Linked DNA regions of Homo sapiens: region 1 is linked to region 2. Evidence: fine-mapped expression QTL. A gene starts in region 2. The other region holds a variant in brackets. All regions are shown on one strand. Distances are between the middles of the regions. Region 1 overlaps ZBTB5 (zinc finger and BTB domain containing 5). Region 2 holds the start of GRHPR (glyoxylate and hydroxypyruvate reductase).

The links. PIP is the estimated chance that this variant, and not a neighbour inherited with it, causes the effect. A credible set is the group of variants that fine-mapping cannot tell apart.
Region 1: its variant is the best candidate, but not a certain one, in a credible set for the expression of GRHPR in esophagus mucosa (GTEx, PIP 0.56).

Annotation. Positions count from the first base shown.
Region 1 is chr9:37,454,127-37,464,012 of GRCh38, forward strand. All of the region lies in intron 1 of ZBTB5 (zinc finger and BTB domain containing 5), which reads right to left. Among named protein-coding and RNA genes, the nearest start is that of ZBTB5, 6.4 kb to the right of the region's middle. The variant T/C (reference allele first, on the strand shown) is at 4,732.
Region 2 is chr9:37,418,173-37,428,058 of GRCh38, forward strand. GRHPR (glyoxylate and hydroxypyruvate reductase) reads left to right here and starts at 4,524. Exons shown (of 9, transcript NM_012203.2): 1 at 4,524-4,661; 2 at 6,673-6,803; 3 at 7,750-7,822; 4 at 8,366-8,482. The coding sequence starts at 4,579. It overlaps LOC105376035 (a long non-coding RNA gene), which reads left to right. Exons shown (of 4, transcript XR_007061479.1): 4 at 1-1,336. RefSeq lists enhancers at 3,870-4,495, 4,496-5,121, 6,796-7,736, 9,869-9,886 and a silencer at 4,336-4,485.

The sequences.
Region 1 (9,886 bases), 36 kb after region 2:
TCTCAAAACCTTTAGAACTTTTTTGGATCTAGAGGGAATATTTTAAAAATTCAGTTCATTTGGGGGATATAAAATTTGCTATTATCTGCTCTGATGGAAGGGAATCATGAATCAAGATCATTCTTACTCAGAACTCTCAAGTAATTCTAGCAAAGTCAGAAGGCCAGTCTAAAAGCCTTAACAGAGCTCAGGCTGAGTAAATTAAGAGTTTTACCCAAAGCTGCCTGTCTGAAGCCTTCTAACCAAGGAAAAAGGCTTCAGGTCTCTTTAAAAGGCTCCAAAATGTGACAATATGAGTCAACATAGCTGGAGGAGAGTGTGGCAAGCAATCTACTGATGTATAACTGTGTCTAACCCAAAGCAAGTGTAAAGTTCAGTATTTGTTATCTGCAGGAACAAATATTTAGGAATTTCAAAACTAAATATAATTAAGAAAATACACTCTCATTACTGTCCATTACATTAACATGAATAATCAAAAGATGACTTTTCTCAATAGATTTACTTTTCTAATAATGCTTTACTTAGGCTAATAAAGTTCCTTTCTGTCTTCGGAGAACAAGCCAGCACATTTTAAACTATTTAATTTATACACTGATATACCCACATGCTTCTCAATAATATACTTCATTCATAACAAAAACCGCACCCATACTCAAACATCATCTACTACCATATCAAGTAATTTGCTGCTTGCCTGCCAGGCAGGATCCACACAGTTGTCACCTGCAGAAAGCAAATTAACATTCTAAGGAATCCTTAACATTCAGTAGCCCAATCTAGATAAAACCCTAGCAGATCCTACTTCTGTGTGGGCTCAGCAAAAACAAAAACCCTAGTGATATGGACAGGAGACAGGGAAATGCTGGGTAGAAGAAGGCAGTACCCCAGCTAAGGCCCCACCCTCAAGCCTGGAAACCTGTGGCCCTAAATGGGAACAGGCATCCCTGTTTTTGCACCCAAATGTTGCCTTTTGGCCTGCCACACCATGCTATCCTGTACACATATAAACCCCAAACCCCAGGTTCCACAGGCAGATGAGCAGACAAACAGAATGTGCAGAGGAGCATAAGAGCAGCGTGGCCAAGGAGAGAAGAGAAGGAGCATCTGAATGTCAAGAGCCATTCAGCTGGGGATGGTCAGAGAGATCGGCCACAGGACAGCCGAACTCCAGGGGAAGATCATCTTCCCACTCCATCCCCTTTCCAGCTCCCCATCCATCCCACTGAGAGCCACCTCCATCATCCAATAAAATCCCGAATACACCATCCTTCAAGTCCATGTGTGACCCAATTCTTCCTGGATGCTGGACAAGAACCCAAATACCAAGAAGGTACTGAGCTGGTTAACACTTAACCCATCTGCATATGGCAAGCTAAAAGAGCACTGTAGCATGCCCAATGGGGCTTCGGGAGCTGCAGGCACCCACCCCTAGATGCCACCGTGGGGCCAGAGCCTAAAAGAGCTTGCCCCAGCTCCTGCCCCTGCCTGTCTCTGTGCTCCTCCTCCTGTAAAGGGTTTTAGCAGTGGTGGCAGCCAAACAGACGAGCCACATCATTGTCACACGTCCTGCGAGGGGGGTTCAGAGAACTCTCCCATTTCATCAGCAGAAAAATAACTAGACAGAACATTTCCTCCACTTGTAGAGACGATATAGATGAAAACAAAAGTCAGAGAGCAGAACAAAGCAAGGACCCACTCAAGTAGGCTAGGATTTTTTTTTTTTAAATACAGGTGGGGTCTCAATATGCCCAGGCTGCTTTTGAACTCCAGCGCTCAAGCAATCCTCCTACCACAGGCTCCGGAAGTGCAGGCTAGGATTTTTTTTTTTTTCTTTTTTTGAGGCAGGATCTCACTCTCTCACTCAGGCTGGAGTACAGTGGCCTGATCACGGTTCACTGCAGCCTTGACCTCCCAGGCTCAAGGTGATCCTCCCACCTCAGCCTCCTGGGTAGCTGGGACTACAGGTGCGTGTCACCATGCCTGGCTAATTTTTGTATTTTTTGTAGATAGGGGGTTTTGCCATGTTGCCCAGGCTGGTTTCAAACTCCTGGGCTCAATCAATCCACCTGCCTCAGCCTCCCAAAGTGCTGGGATTACAGCCGTGAGCCACCCACCCACCTGGCCCAGGCTAGGAATTTTGACAGGGCTCCAAGTCAGACAGAGCGGAGTACTGGAACATCCATCCATTGTTCTAATTTGACCAGCAAAGTGGGAGTAGGGGAAGGCTGGAACTAGGTGGGCACAATGATGCCTGGGTTAACCCCAAGAAACCAGACCTGTCAGCATGACTAATGTCATAATATCTCTGGTTCTGCTCTGTCAGGGTTGGCTCAGAAACTGAACAGATTAGTTCTATAAAACAGGAAAATTCCACTAGTGACTAAAGATGAGCATGACTGAGGAAGGCGAGCTGGAAGCCCTGACCATCTCACCTAACTCTCCAATTCTCTCCACATTGCCACCTTGTTTTCCAGGCCAAAATCCCTAGGGATGAATTGACCTAGAGCTCTGTAACTCAGTTTGAATAAGAAAAGGTATTAGTGCCCTACTTAGGTTCCTAGTACAAGCTCAAATGCTTTTTCTACTAAAACAGCTTATTGAGGGCAGGAACTGTATTTTCTCTCTCTCAAAGTGCCTGACATAAAATACTCAGTAAATTATTTGCTGAATAAACTTTTGCTATATATGGATGAAGTATAATGTATTACCCAAAAATCACTTTTCTGAGAATCACAACTATCTCTAAAATCAGCCAAAAACCAGAAGAAAAAGTCTCAGAATATCCAAAATAAAGATCAAAGACTATGGATGAAAGATTTTCTCATAGGAAAGTCCCTTAAGCCCTCACACAGTCTTTTGTTCGAAACAAAATTCAAGTTTTTCTAGTTCCCTAACTAACTGAAGCAGCAACTCCAGAATGAGAGCAAGGAGTGGCTGCTTAAATGAAGTTAAGCTGATAGCTGCAGAAAGAGACAGCTGACCCACTAAGGGGGAAAAGAGGCCCAGCAGCTTGGAGCTAGGTAGTATACAGCTCAAGGGACCTCAACAGCCCATAAAGGTACTTGTGTATTTTTTGTATACAAGTTCATTCATGTAATATGTTTTTTGTTTTGTTTTGTTTTTGAGACAGAGTCTTGCTTTGCCACCCAGGCTGGAGTGTGGTGGTGCAATCACAGCTCACTGTAGCCTCCACTTCCCTAGCTCAAGTGACTCTCCCACCACAGCCTCCCAAATACTGGTACTACAGGCACGTCACCATGCCCAGCTAATTTTTTATTCTTTGTAGAGACGGGTCTCACTATGTTGCTCTGGCTGGTCTCGAACTCCTGGGCTCAGGTATTCCTCCTACCTTGGCCTCCCAAAGTGCTGAGATTACAAGTGTGAGCCACCATGCCAGCATCATCTAATGTTTTAAAGTGCTTACTTGTTCAAGGTTAAGCGCTGTGGAGCATAGATTTGTATGGGACAGTACTAACTGTCACAGGTATTTAGTGGAAATAAGATATACATGAATAACGATATTACAAAGTGGAAGGCACTAAGTGCCACATAAGAGGTGAAAGAACCTCTCAATGGTTTGGAGAAGGCAAAGGTTATTTCTAGCTTCATGGTAGCGTTGACAACAGAGCTAGGTCTTGGTTGGATTTGGACAAACCCCTAGACAGAGGTAAAGGTGGAGAAGGGGTTGAGGTGGGTAAAGCAATGTATTCGATTTGGCTGGAAAATAGTATGGCTAGAAAGGTAGGTATTGGATAGTGACTGCTCATAACTGATGTTAATAATTACAAGTCATCAGAAAGGTTAACCATGAGGCACATACTTTTGAACTAAAGGCTATCATCACTTTTGAGATTACTTTCTTAAAAAGTATTTTAGGGTTTTTTTCTTAAGTTTAAGCAGCACATCAGCCAGAGTCATTGGTTGCAGCAACAAAAATTGATCCTAAACATAAAAGTAATTTACTGAAAGGCTATTAGTTTGATCATGGAATTGATGGGAAGGCTGGATACGTAAGATTGAACTGGGAAGAAATTAAGCTAGGCAGCAGGAACAATCAGGTCAGAATGCCAAACATCTGTGCTGAACACAGCTACTACTAACCAAATGCTCACTCCAATGGAGACCCAGCCTCCCCTTCCCTACATCTGTTATTAAGTCTCAACTCTTGAGTACCTGTTTTCAATATGTGTGATAAAATGGGAAGTACACCTGAAGTTTTCCTCCTGCATTCTGAAATACAAGTTGCCTCAAGAAAAAGCACTTGTGCAGTTTTTGAGGTGGCTCAACTAATTGCTTTTCTCATGGGACACTATTTTTACTTGAAAGAACGAATGACAAACTATGGTTATTTAGAAGTATTTACCATTTTCTTGAAAATGAATGAAAAAATGAATGAAACAAGCCTGTTATTTTAAATAAGATAACTTAGTACTACTTATTGCCAATAAAAAAGTTTGAGAATTCAGGTGAAAATTAGTATTTTGGAAAACTTGTATCTGTCACTGTGAGCTTGACAGCTTCCCACATGCTCAAATTCTTCTGACAGATCATTGGTGATATTAATGAAATGTGATTTTTTTACATTGTATAATAAATGAGTCAACGTTTGGAAGATCTGCATAACTCTGAAATCAGTATTTTCCAAATGACCATGTAGCCATGTAACAATAATGCTATAAAACAAGGTATGGGTAAAAATTCATTCAAGGTACAAAACATAAGCTAATG[T/C]ATTTTAATGCAACAGAATATGAAAAGTTCATTGACATAATTTCAGATTCCACATTGCACTAATCACTTAAGAAAATACCACTTGTGGAGTTTTGGTACAGTATCAGAGTAAGAATATCCAAAATTATCTGAAAAATCTACTGAAATAATCCTCCCTTTCCAACTACATATTTGTGTGATGCTGGAGTTTTTTGGTATATTTTAATCAAAATAGTGTATCACGGCAAAATGAATGCAGAAGCATTTAATGGAATCCAGCTGTCTTCTATTAAACTACATATTAAAGAGATTTACAAAAAATGTAAAACAGGGCATGGGCATGCCAGCCCCTGCTTCTCAGCCTGTACTCCCAGCACTTTGGGAGGCCAAGGCAGGTGGATCACCTGAGGTCAGGAGTTTGAGACCAGCCTGACCAACATGGAGAAAAGCCGTCTCTACTAAAAATACAAAAAATTGGTGGGGCGTGGTGACACATGCCTGTAATCCCAGCTACTCGGGAGGCTGAGGCAGAAGAATCGCTTGAACCTGGGAGGCAGAGGTTGCAGTGAGCCAAGATCGCACCACTGTACTCCAGTCTGGGCAACAAGAGCAAAACTCTATCTCAAAAAAAAAAAAAAGTTTTCTTTTCTTTCCAATCCCAACTGATGTGTAGCATAAACAACTTTTAAACATGTCTTTTACCCCTGACAGATCAAGAAACTTTTTTTTTTTTTTCAGGCAGAGTCTCACTCTGTTACCCAGGCTGGAGTGCAGTGGCACAATCTCAGCTCACTGCAACCTCCAGTTCAAGCAATCCTCCTGCCTCAGCCTCCCGAATAGCTGGGATTACAGGCGTGCACCACCATGCCCAGCTAATTTTTTTTTTTTTTTTTGAAATGAGTCTTGCTCTGTTGCCCAGGCTGGAGTGCAGTGGTGCGATCTCGGCTCACTGCAAGCTCTGCCTCCCGGGTTCATGCCATTCTCCTGCCTTAGCCTCCCAAGTAGCTGGGACTACGGGCGCCCGCCACCACACCTGGCTAATTTTTTGTATTTTTAGTAGAGACGGGGTTTCACCTTGTTAGTCAGGATGGTCTCGATCTCCTGACCTCATGATCTGTCCGTCTCGGCCTCCCAAAGTGCTGGGATTACAGGCGTGAGCCACTGCGCCAGGCCATTTTTTTTAATTTTTAGTAAAGACTGGGTTTCATCATATTAGCCAGGCTAGTCTCAAGCTACTGACCTTGTGATCTGCCTACCTCAGCCTCCCAAAATGCTGGGCCTGGCCAAGAAACTTCTTTCTTAATGAAAAAAATTAGTCCAGCTAGGCACAGTGGCTCACGCCTGTAATCCCAGCACTTTGGGAGGCCGAGGCGGGTGGATCAACTGAGGTCGGAAGTTCGAAACTAGCCTGACCAACATGGAGAAACCCTGTCTCTGCCAAAAATAAAAAATTAGCCGGGCATGGTGGTGCATGCCTGTAATCCCAGCTACTCGGGGGCTGAGGCAGGAGAATCGCTTGAACCCGGGAGGTGGAGGTTGCAGTGAGCCAAGATCGCGCCATTGCGCTGGATCCAGCCTGGGCAATAAGAGTGAACACTCCCCCCCCAAAAAAATTAGGCCAGATGCGGGGCTCACACCTGTAATCCCAGTACTTTGGGAGGCTGAAGCGGGAGGCTCATTTGAGACCTGCTTGGTTAACATAGCAAAACCTTTTCTCTACAAAAAAATTTTTTTTTAATTAGCTGGGTGCTGGGCATGGTGGCTCACGCCTATAATCTCAACATGTTGGGAGGCCAAGGTGGGAGAAATGCTTGAGTCCAGGAGTCTAAGACCAGCCTGGAAAACATAGGGAGACCCCCACCTCCACAAAAAATACAAAAATTAGCTGGGCGTGGTGGTGCATGCCTGTAGTCCCAGCTACTTGGGAGGCTGGGTGGGGGAGGGTTGCTTGAGCCCAGGAGTTTGGGGCTGCAGTGAGTTATGACCATCCCACTACACTCCAGCCCAGGTGACAGAGCAAGACCCTATCTCAAAAGCAAAACAGAACAAAGTAGAAAGAAAAAAAAAAACTAAACTTTTATCAAGATGAAAACTATGACAAAGCTTTGGAGACACTATTATTATGGTGCCTTTCCAACAGAGAAGATGAACATGGACTTAATCCATTTCTTACACCTAGTTTACTTTCAAAGCAGTATATGCCTTCACTTCTCAATCATTTATCAAATCAATAATGCTCAGCAAGTGACCTTCACTTGACCTGCAGAGTTGCTTTTGATCATCTATTCAAAATAAGTACAATCTAAGTAACTTAAATGTGTTTAGATTTTTGTAGCATTTCTGGGCTCCTCCCACAACCAAATGCCCAAACACTGGATTTTGTTTTCCTGGTCTTCCTTCCTCAAATCCTCTTCGCAAAAAAGACTAAACCATAAGGACTATAAAGGTGAAAGCCTTGTATTTTTAGAGGAAGATGGTTGAGTGGATTTTAAATTATAATTGACTAAGATGTACTGAAAAATTAATTATACCATGTCAACAATATCATGCATAGAAAAAAAGGGGAGCAACTCACCCTAAACATTTTAAACTTAAGAAAATGGCAATCAGCCAGGTGCAGTGGCTCTCATGCCTGTAATCACGCACTTTGGGAGGCCAAGGCAGTCGGATCACCTGAGGTCAGGAGTTCAAGACCAGCCTGGCCAACATGGCGAAACCCTGTCTCTACCAAAAAGTACAAAAATTAGTCGGGCATGGTGGCACGAGCTGTAGTCCCAGCTACTCAGGAGGCTGAGACACAAGAATCATTTGAACCCAGGAGGCGGAGGTTGCAGTGACCCGAGATCAGATTATGCCATTGCACTCAAGCCTGGGTGACAGAGTGAGACCCTGTCTCAAAAAAAAAAGTAAATTAGGAATAAAGGCATTTGTAAACCTGTTACCATACAAAGTAACAGATTACCAAGTATAATTTCCAAAAAGTAGACCTATCACTTAATCATCCTTTAAAATTTGTAAAATGAACATTTTATTTGTTAATTTCCATTTACATAAGGAAAAATATCACGCTCGATAGGCTTCTTTTCAGTAACAAACATTTTCCAGAGCAGGAAAACGAATTAGGAAAATTTATTGGTTACAATTACAAGGAATTAGTTGGGTACAAAAGTCTCTTTATGGGGGATAGGCAGCCAGGATTTTACTATGTTGCCTGGGCTGGTTTGAACTCAAGTGATCCTCCTGCCTCAGACTCCCAAGTAGTTGGGACTACAGGTGTGTGCCACCTGAGCTAAAATTCTATTAATTTTACCAAATTTCATTAAATCTAAGATGTCTGTGATTATAAAATGCATTATTTCATGTAACACTAGGAAAAAAACTGCCAATTAAGCTATGGCATAATGCTTACTTATGGTATCCTGTCTTCAAGGAAGGAAAACTGTCTGCCAATGACTACTATGATAGAGGCAGGAGACAGACAAATGCCTAGGCAGACAGGGGCACATCCCCAGTGAAACCCCACCTCCAAGCCGAAGACAGTTTAAAAGCTTGAAAGCCAAGCTACAAGTCAAATCCACGGACCAGATTGAGAACCTGTGTTCCCATTTGGCATGCTTTCCTCTGACTGATCCCCACCCTTCACCTATTTTACATATATCTACCCCTTTCCTAATTGGTTTTCTACACTGTCGTGCCCACCTTTGAGTGGTGTCTTTGCTTTAACCGTTTTTTTTTTTTTTTTGAGACAGGGTCTCACTCTGTCTCCAAGACTCCAAGTGTGCAGTGGCATGCTCTCAGCTCAATGCAACTTCTGCCTCCCAGGCTCAAGCGATTCTTCCGCCTCGGCCTCCTGAGTAGCTGGGATTACAGGCGCACGTCACCATGCCGGGTTAATTTTTGTATTTTTAGTAGAGACAGGGTTTCACCATGTTGGCCAGATTGGTCTTGAACTCCTGAGCTCAGGCAATCTGCCCGCCTCAGCCTCCCCAATTGCAGTAATTACAGGCGTGAGCCACCACACCCGGCCTTCCCTTTAAACTTTTTGCATCAGAAACCAATCAGCACACACTCCCCATTCTGAGTCCCTAAGAAGCCCCGGAACCAGCCACACTGGGAAAGAGACCACCCCCTGCATGCCCTCTTCTCTGAGAGCTGTTCCATCACTCAATAAAATTCTTCTCTGCCCTCCTCACCCTTCGAATTGTCAGAGTAACCTAATCTGTTTGGGATGTCAAGATAAATCAAAGCTTTTAGGAAATACATGTATAACTAATAAAATGAAAGGCACCTCTAAAACTGGATCTTGAAATTAAAAGCTACTATTCAGTGGTGAAAATGATGAGAACATATGCAAAGAGCAATAGTTCACTCAGAAACAGCTGGTCTTTTAGGAGATGAGAAGTTCACTTCATACTTAGACAAAAGGCATAGTGTAGTGCTACATTCCATCCCACCTGCTACACTAACAAAACTGGCTCTACTAGACAACATCCATATTTGAGAAATATTACGTACAGTAAAAGAAAAATCACACGCTTAAAACTGACAGAGGGGGAAAGTATTTAAAATTAATTTACATTAAAAAAAAAGTTGAAAGCTAACATAGAATCAATACCTTGGGTTCTTTTTTCCATTTCCAAAACGAATGTGAGCCAGATTCAAGATTCTCTGTCAGCACTACACCAGGTTTTGTCAATTTCACTGAACACAAGATATTTTAAAGTCTCCAATTCGATATAATTCATGCTGAGTTCTTTAAGTACTATTTGATATCCCAGTGATTTTTTATTACTTCCACTTTGGGGACAGTCTTGTGAGTCTCTTTTGAGAGCGTTCGCTCCTAAGTCTGTAAGATGCCTTTCCTCCAAATCTTACCATTTTCAGAATTCTGCTAGAGACATATCAATTAACCAAAATCCAGCTTGCCAGCATCCTCAGCTAACTAAAAGTTATGTTTTGACACAACTTTTAGGGAAAAGGGGCAAATCTCTAGTAAACGAGTTGACTTCAGGACTCTTCAAAAAAAGAGTCTGTTTATTCAGCAAAACCCAAGGGCCCAAAACAGGTCCCCACCCAAGTAGTCTTACCTGTAAGGTCACCAAGCTGGCTGTGGTGGCCAGGTCAATCTTCCCAAATTTGATGAGATTTCCATAAGGGTTAAAAGGAAGAGTGAACG
Region 2 (9,886 bases):
TATGATATTCACAGAGAGGTGACATCACCCGCTGAAGATCACACAGCAAGTCCCTGGGCCACCTGGATCCCGGCCACAGCTCCACCCTGCTACCTCCCTCTCTTAAGTAACACATTAATAAGTGTCTTACCCTCAGGCCATTATCTGTGTTCCCAGGCCAGGGAACATTTCTGAAACACATCAAACATTGACAAAAAGAGGTGTTTTTCTGTCCCCAGGCCAGGCCCTTCGGCCTCTGTTAACCAGTGAGTGTTCTCTGTTAATCCTGAGCCCAGCTCCTCCTACACACAAGTACAAACAAGGGCATTGGGCATGGGAGAAACCTGTCCACCAGGGCCAGGAGGGGACACGGAAGGTTAATGGGTCCCCTCCCCCAAAGCAATGCACACAGCTGGGGCTCAATAAGTGCTACTGGGTGGTAGGAACAGAGCCAGCTGAGGGCACAGGAAGAGGGATCTGCTAAGCAGAGGAGGCCTGACCTGGGCTTCATTGGGTAAAACCAGTCATCATAATAAGTAGCTGGCATTTCGGGAGCTCTTAGTTAGTTCCAGACACTGCCCTGAGCACTGGACATGGTCACTCACTAACGTTTCCATGTTTCAGTATCTGTGGGGTGCATATGTTGCTCTCCCCAGTCTACAGACAGGAAGCTGCAGGCAAGAAAGATGAAGTCATTTGCTTAAGTCACACCATTACCAAGAGGCCGAGCTTGGATTCACACCCAGCACCCTGGCTCCAGACCCAAGCTCTCAACCACAATACAAGCCTGTGGAGTGGGAGGGGTGAAATACATGAGTGAGGGGTGACTTCTAGGTATTGGCTTGGGGTGGCTGTCCCTTTGATGGATATGTGGGAGGAGCGCAGGTGTCAGGTGAGGTATTGGGGAGAAGGTGGATGAATTGGGTTTGGCAGGTGTTGAGTTCCAGATACCTGAGGATGCTCAGGTGGAGGAGGCAGGAGAGAGGCGGCTTATGGCTCTGAAGCTGGGTGATGGGGGCTGGAGCTGCTCACTCCAGAGTCATCAGCGTAGAAGCGCAGCCTGGGAGACACCTGAGCGATGAAGGGGCAAGGCCACAGCTAAGGCAGGGGAATTGATATTTAGTGTGCAAGGATTCAAAATGACAGCAAGAAAAGAAGTGTTTTAGAGACTATTACTATTATTATTATTGAGACAGAGTCTTACTCTGTTGCCCAGGCTGGAGTGCAGGGGTGCAATCATAGCTTACTGTAACCTTGAACTCCTGGGCTGAAGTGATACTCCGGCCTCCGCCTTCCGGGACTCAGCCACCACAACCAGCTAACTTTTAAATTTTTCTGTAAAGACAGGGTGGGGGAGCCTCCCTATATTGCCCATGCTGGTCTTGAACTCCTGACCTCAAGCAGTCCTCCAGCTTTAGCCTCCCAAAGTGCTGGGATTACAGGAATCAGCCACCAAACCTGGCCAAATGCTATTTTTATTTATTTTATTTTATTTATTTATTTTTGAGACGGAGTTTTTTTGTTTGTTTGTCTTTTGTTTTCTTTTGAGACAGAGTCTCGCTCTGTCGCCCAGGCTGGAGTAAAGTGGCGTGATCTTGGCTCACTGCAACCTCCACCCCCTGGGTTCAAGCAATTTCCTGCCTCAGCCTCCTGAGTAGTTTGGATTATGGGCACCTGCCACCAAGCCTGGCTAATTTTTTTGTATTTTTAGTAGAGACGGGGCTTTACCATGTTGGCCAGGCTGGTCTCGAACTCCTAAGCTCAGGTGATCCACCCGCCTCAGCCTCCCAAAGTGCTGGGATTACAGGCGTGAGCCACCGCGCCTGGCCAAGTGCTATTTTTAAATGAATGTTTTCTTTATTTTGAGGGTAGATAATAAATGCACAAGATGCAAATTCCCAAAGGGTGAAAATTGTGTCTCTCTTACTCTGTCCCAGTTCACCAGGTCTTCTCCCCAGAGGCAGCCACTGTCCCCAGTTTCTTCTTTTTTCTTTTTCTTTTTTTTTTTTTTTTTTTGTTAGAGACAGGGTCTCACTCACTCTGTTGCCCAGGCTGGAGTGCAGTGGCACAATCACAGTTCACTGCAGCCCCAGCCTCCCAGGCTCAAGCAATCTTCCTACTTCAGTTTCCCAAGTAACTGGGACTACAGGTGTACACCACTACGCCTGGGTAATTAAAAAAAAATTTTTTTTTGTAGAGACAGGGTCTCGCTATGTTGCCCAGGCTTGTCTCAAACTCCTGGGCTCAAGCAATGCTCCTGACTCAGCCTCCCAAAGTGCTGGAATTACAAACCATGAGCCACTGCACCTGGCCTGTTCCCAAAGAAACAAGAAAGATGTTTCTTGTACATCTTTCCAGGGATATTTAACACACAGAAATAGGTGGCCAGGTGTCGTGGCTCACGCCTGTAATCCCAGAACTTTGGAAGTGGATCGCTTTGAGCCCAGGTGTTCGAGACAAGCCCGGTCAACATAATGAAACCCTGTCTCTACAAAAAATACAAAACATTAGCTGGGTGTGGTGGCACATGCCTGTGGTCCCAGCTGCTCAGGAGGCTGAGGCGGGAGGATCATTGGAGCACAGGAGGTAGAGGTTGCAGTGAGCCAAGATTGCACCATTGCCCTCCAGCCTAGATAACAGACTGAGATCCTGTCTCAAAAAAAAAAAAAAAAAAAAAAAAAAAAGAATAGGCATATACTTTCTCCTATAAATGGTAACATATGCACTTTGCATCACCCTGTTTTCTCACTGGACAGTACATCTTGGAGATCATTCCACACTGGTACGCACAGAGCTGCCTCACTCTTTTGATTGATGCAGAGTATTTCACTGTGGGAATGAAGCATACGTAATGAACAGTCCCCTATGAGTGGACCTTTAGGTTGTTTCCCATATTTTACTATTCCAACAATGCCACAATGAAGAGCCTTTGGCAGATGGCATTTTGCACATGTGTGAACGCGTCTGTAAGGTAAATTCCTAAAAGCAAAATTTCTGGGTCAAAAAAGATGTGCAGTCTAAACTTTGATAGCTACTGCCAAACTTTCTTATTGAAGTTGCTGATTTACACTCCTACCAGCAACGTATGAAAGCACCTGGTTCCCCAATGTATTATTTTTTACATTGGTATCTTGCTGTAATTTTAATATGCAGTTCTTTTGTGAGTCAAGTTGAGCACTTTTCATCTTTTGTTTTTTTTTTTTGTTTGTTTTGTTTTTTTTTGTTTTAGATGGAGTCTCACTCTGTCACCCAGGCTGGAGTGTAGTGATGGGATCTCGGCTCACTGCAACCTCCATCTCCTGGACTCATGAGCAATTCTCCTGCCTCAGCCTCCTGAGTAGCTGGAATTACAGGCATGTGCCACCATGCCCACCTAATGTTTGTATATTCAGTACAGACAGAGTTTCACCATGTTGGCCAGGCTGGTCTCAAACTTCTGACCTCAAGTGATCCGCCTGCCTCGGCCTCCGAAAGTGCTGGGATTACAGGCATGAGCCACCGCGCCCAGCCATACATTTAAAGGCCATTTTCTTTTCTATAAACTGTCCATTGATATCCTTTGCTTATTCAGATAAGCTGGGCATCTTTGTCTTAGGAACTATTTGTGCAATAAGTAAATCAACCCCTTGTCTATAAAATGAGTTGCAAATATATGGTATTTTTCCCGGTTTGTTGTCTTATGATTTTGTTAATTTTTTTTTTTTAAGATAAACATAAGCCTGGTATTTCCAGGCACCTGGTATTTCCAGGCAGTCTCCCATACAAGCCCTAACCAGGCTTAGTTTCCAAGATCAGATGCATTCAGGATGGTACGGTTAATTTTTCAATGGAGAATTAGTTGTACTCTTATGGCTTCTGGCTTTCGCACACATAGCGTATCACTTATTTATTGCTGCATAAAGAATTACTCCAAAATTGAACGGCTTAGAGCAACAGCAGTCAGTGCATTATCATCTCTTATGGTTCCGGGGTTGACTGGGCTCAGCCAGTGATTCTCCTAAAGGCTCTTTCTTGCAGTTTTAGCTGTAGTCAGGTGGGAGTTGGCCTGGAGTCACCCGAAGGCTTCCTCACTCATACCTCTGGTCATTGACGGTGGCTGTGAGCCGGGCCCCTGGCTGTGCTGTTGGCCTGAACACCTACACGTGACCTCTCTGTGTGTCCTGGACTTCCTCACAGCCTGGAACCTGGGTTTCTACCCTGGGCCAACCCAAGAGACAGAAAAAGTGGGGGCTTTCAGTCTCTTAAGGCCTGAGCCTGTGGAAACAGGACCCTGAGCGTGTAGAAAAAGCAGGGCTCCCATGAGGCCTTGGACGGGATACTGCCCCCTCTCCCCCGGGGCCCTGATTCCCCAGTGGCACGAGGCGCACCCCCCCACACACACACAAGGACACTGTGTAGGGTCACTGTTACTGTCACTCCCCGAGCACGCACAGTCACCGCTCAGCCGCAACCCGGCGCTCCCTCTCGCGAAGCCACACCCCCTGCGCACGCCGCGCGCGACGTCTCTCCCGCCCACTCCAGCCTGGCCCCGCCCCGGCCCAGCTACATTCCCGGGCCAGCTTCTGTACTGCCAGGTCCGGGTCGGCGGCTGCACTGCGGATGAGACCGGTGCGACTCATGAAGGTGTTCGTCACCCGCAGGATACCCGCCGAGGGTAGGGTCGCGCTCGCCCGGGCGGCAGAGTAAGAGCCTCGCGCGCCGTGGAGGAGGGAGCAGGGCGGTCCCAGGGACCGGAGAGCCGGGCGGGGCGTTTGGGCCTTGTGGCCGGCTGGGGCAGGCTTGGAGTTTTGGGGAGTCTCGGAGAAAGTTCTCTGGGGCCCAGTTCTCCTCTTAAGACGACGCTGGGACCTGCAGTTCCGGCTTTGGAGAGGGGAGATTGCCCCTGAGGCAAGGTCCAGGCTAATTCTCCACGCTCCCACAGGACATGTGGGGTCAGGGACATGGCGGTCACTGACCAGGCCCTTGGACGTTTGGCAGGGGGCTTTGATGACTCTTCTTCTTTATATTTACTTATCTTTTTTTTTTTTTTTTTGAGACAGTCTCACTCTGCTGCACAGGCTGGAGTGCAGTGGCTCGATCGATCGTGGCTTACTGCAGCCTCGACTTCTTGGGCCCAATCAGTTCTCCCACCTGAGCCTCCCGAGTAGCTGGGACTACAGGCGCAAACAATCACTACCGGCTAATTTTCTGATTTTTTTTTTGTAGAGATGGGGGTCTCACTCTGTTGCTCAGGCTGGTCTCAAATTCCTGGGCTCAAGCAATCCTCTTGCCTCAGCCTCCCAAAGTGTTGGGATTACAGGTGTTAGTCACCATGACTGGCCTGAGGACCCTTTAATTTTTAAGACAGGGTCTCACTCTCATCCAGGCTGGAGTGCAGTGGCACCATTATACCTCACTGCAGCCTCAACCTCCTGGACTCAAGAGATACTTCCACCTCAGCCTCCCAAGTAGCTGGGACTACTACAGGCATGCACTACCATGCCTGGCTAATTTTTTATTTTTTTCAAAGACGAGGGTCTCACTGTGTTGCCCAGGCTGGTCCTGAACTCCTGTACGAAGGGATCCTCCCACCTCAGCCTCCCAAAGTGCTGGGATTACAGGCATGAACCACTGCACCTGGCCCACCCTTGCTAAATGGAACCCTTTTTGTGGGCCAACCTTGCCAGGTGCTTCATATACATAAACTTTTAATCCTGGTAGCACTGTGAAGTCAGTATTATAATTCCCATTGCACAGATTAAAAACTGGAGGCTGGACTTAGGGTTAAGTTTCTTCCCAAAGCCATGCAGCTCCCAGGTGGAGGAGCTGGGGCTTGTACTCAGAAGTGTCTGACTGCTGTCTGATCACTGCATTTGATCAGGTTTGTGTTTCCAATGTTAGATAGGAAGAGGATGCAATCCAGCCTCAGCAGCCAGTTCTAGGGGCATATGAGATTTTCAAATTTTGTTCACTGCAACAAAACCTTTGCCAAGGACCCACTTTGTACTGAGCAGGAGAAGGTGGAAGGCAGCAACCGCGCCCATGGTAACAGTAGCTCACGCTGTACCCTGCTCATGGGGAGGTGGATGAAAGGTGGTCAGTGCCCTGGGCTCAGTCAGGAGGTGCAAGTAGCTATCCTGTGTCCTGCCACATAGAGGCTCCACACGTGCTGACTGTACTGAATTCCATGGCAAGGGCCAGGAGGCACCGTGCATCACTGGGACAAATATCTGGTTGCTGTGAGCTGCCGTGGAAGCGTTGGGTGGCCTTGACCTTATCTTTCCTGGCCCAGTCCAACTATGAGAGTTTTCTATTTCATGGACTCCACGGACAGGAAGAGATGCAACAGGCCATTGAATCCAGGCCCCCCACCTGAGGCACACCCTGCCCCCCACGGGCCTTCCCTGCAGTTGGCCGCCTGCTTGGCCGCCCAGCCCCTGTGAATGTGGGAAAGCTCTTCTCTGTGCTGACCTGAGAGCTGTCCCCATGCCTTCCCCCTTGCAGCTTAGGCTCTGCTGGGGGGCCCCTCAGCCCTTCACCTGTCACCTGCTGTCTCGGGACAGTTCTGAGACCACCCCTGCCTGACCCTGCCTCCCCTCAGCCAGCCCCGGGCAGCCTGAGGCCAGGGCCATCAGAGGCCAGGATTCCCAGCTGGGAGGGGCGGGGACAGGTGTGCGGCTCCTGCTTCTCCTGAGGGCCTCCCTTTCCCCGCAGCTGTGAGGTGGAGCAGTGGGACTCGGATGAGCCCATCCCTGCCAAGGAGCTAGAGCGAGGTGTGGCGGGGGCCCACGGCCTGCTCTGCCTCCTCTCCGACCACGTGGACAAGAGGATCCTGGATGCTGCAGGTGCACACTGGGTGGGCAGGGGACTTGAGGGTGGCTTGGCCCTGTGGGCCCCTCAGCCTGTGCTGCTGGCTCCTGGCTGCTCTGCAGTGCTGTCTGGGTTCTGAGGGCGTTTCCTGCGATACCAGGCCCGAGCGGGCAGATAGCTTGCTCTGGCACAGGCACTGCCCCTCCCTCCTGCTGTGAACCCCTTGGCGGGGGACCCTAGGAGGGCAAAGACCGCGGTGTGGAGACTGTGGGTGTGGGGAAGTGCATCCAAGGCCCTGGGTTCTCCAGCCCTGCCACAACCTTGCTCTGTGACCTCCAGCAAGACCCTGCCCCTTCTGGGCGTGTGCGTAGTATGAGGGAGGACCTAGCTCAGTGCCAAGCCCCAGCAGGATGTCTTTCCTCAACCGCAGCCACGGGTCTCAGCCCATGGAAGAATAAACCTCCCCCTGTGAGGCTGTTGTGACAGTTTTGAGAAAAGGTTCAGACTCAGAGGCTGCCAGATGGGAAGGGACCCTTGTGAGTCAGTGCTGAGCCGCCCCACATCCTGGCCTTGGCCTGGAAGCTTTGTGGTGTCCTGCTTGCAGGAGAGGGTAGAGAGGGTCACGTCCCAGCCACCTTCTTGGCACTCTCAGAGGTGTCCATGGGGGAGGCCCCAGCGTGGCTAAAGAAGACCGGAGGCCTCGCTGGGTGGACAGTCCAGTGGGTAAGAGCGGGGCCTTGGTGGCAGAGGCCCTGAGGTGAACCCGGCTCTGCCTGTGACTGAGCCAGGCCACTTAACCTCCCTGAACTGCAGTGTCTGAGGCTGTCAAAGGGGATTATTCAGAGTTTTAACTGAAGAACAGAGATGTCAGCCTCTTATTCTAAGAAAACAATAATAAGCGGTGTCCCCATGATAGTCCCCAGTGCTGTGGCTTTGAGTTCCTCGAGGAAAGATACTAACAATGCACTTTCTGCACAACAGGGGCCAATCTCAAAGTCATCAGCACCATGTCTGTGGGCATCGACCACTTGGCTTTGGATGAAATCAAGAAGCGGTAACTGCAGCTTGGGATCTGGAGGGGGCCTAGAGAGAGGGGTGGCTATGAGAGAAAGAAGAGCTGTTGATTTGTTTTTACTGCATATCCCTCGGCCATTCAGGGAGAATGTGAGGTGGCTGATGATAGAATCTGTCCACATGTGCACAGGTCAGTTACAATAAACCCCAGCAGTCAGAAACAGTGGGTAACTTCTGTGTAGGTGGCACCCTTTCACATTCATTATCTTTTTTGATCCCCACAACAATACCTTGAAGTAGCAAAGGCAGGTGTTATTCTTTCTGTTTCAGATGAGGAAATTCAGAAAGGTTAAGTTACTTGTTCAGTCCCTGAACCCTGATCTTCCATCTTCATATCCTTCCAAAGTGGGAGATAATCTAAATAGGAATGAGGACTGCCCGTTTTTGAGTGCTCATTTATAGTTCTGAGCTTCCTGGCAGGCAGATCAAAGAGGGAGCAAAGTAACTCCATGGAAATGTCCCAGCAGTAGACATTGGTAAATATGGTTGAGGCTGATGTTACCACCAGATGTCTGATTCGTAGTGGGATCCGAGTTGGCTACACCCCAGATGTCCTGACAGATACCACCGCCGAACTCGCAGTCTCCCTGCTACTTACCACCTGCCGCCGGTTGCCGGAGGCCATCGAGGAAGTGAAGAAGTAAGTGAACGCAGACCAGGTGCGGTGGCTCACGGCTGTAATCCCAGCACTTTGGGAGGCCAAAGTGAGCGGATCATGAGGTTAGGAGTTCGAGACCAGTCTGGCCAACATAGTGAAACCCCGTCTCTAGTAAAAATACAAAAAAAATTAGCTGGGTGTGGTGGTGGGTCCCTGTAATCCCAGCTACTTGGGAGGCTGAGGCAGGAGAATCATGTGAACCCAGGAGACAGAGGTTGCAGTGAGCTGAGATCACACCATTGCACTCCAGCCCAGGTGACGGTGTGAGACTCTGTCTCAAAAAAAAAAAGAAAAATAAGTGAACGCCTGGCAGGAACGTTGGCTCTGCTCAGCACTGGATCCTGATCACTGTGCCAGTCCAGCCCACGCATAGTCCCTGACCCCAGGTGTGCCCCATTGAGTGAGGACTCAGCTAAAATAAAGCACAAAGCAGAGCTGCAATAAGGGCAGAAAGGGAAGTGGTGAGAGAAGAGGATGAGGGAGGACAAACAAGTTCTGCTGGTGGGTGAGGGCTGGCAGGGAGAGTGTGGATCAGGGAGGGCTTCACAGAATAAGTAGCAGGTGGGCGTCCGCTTGAGTCCTGAAAGCTGCAGGTCCACCATCCCTTAGATCCCAAAATCTAAAAAGCTCGGACAGCTGAAAGTTCTTTCATACTAACAGGAGACTATTTAAGGCTTTTATTTCTCCCATTTAATGTGACTTTCCTAAGTTTTGCTGCAGATGTAACACTTTTAAAACAGGCTGCTGCCCAGACACTGCAGAGGGTGATGTGTGGAATCTACCACGTGCGCCATGCTGCCTTTCTAAAGGCCAAACAGTTTTAAAATCTAGCCTGAAGGTTTCAGATCAGGGATTTCGGCCTGTATATCAAGAGTTAGAGTTGGCCGGGCACGGTGGCTCACACCTGTAATCCCAGCACTTTGGGAGGCCGAGGCGGGCAGATTGTTTGAGCCTCAGGAGTTGGAGAACAGCTTGGGCAATGTGGCAAAAGTCTGTCTCTACAAAAAATACAAAAATTAGGCAGGCGTGGTGTTACACGCCTGTAGTCCCAACTACTCGGGAGGCTGAGGTGGGAGGATTGCTTGAACCCAGGAGGCAGAGGCTGCAGTGAACCGAGATCATGTCACTGTACTCCAGTCTGGGCGACACAGCAAGACCCTGTCTCCAAAAAAAAAAAAAAAAAAAGTTGGGGGAAGCATTCCATGTGCAGATGGAGGGACTGGCCCGAGTCAAGGTGGGAGGCGTGCAAACGCAGGCTCTCACAGTGCGTGGCCAGCAGCGTGGGCCCCGGCACGGGGCATGGAGCAGAGTAGACAGTGCTGAGTCCTGCTCACTGTCCTGTCTGGGGAGTCATCACATCTACTGGAGGTGGCTCAGGGCAGGCTC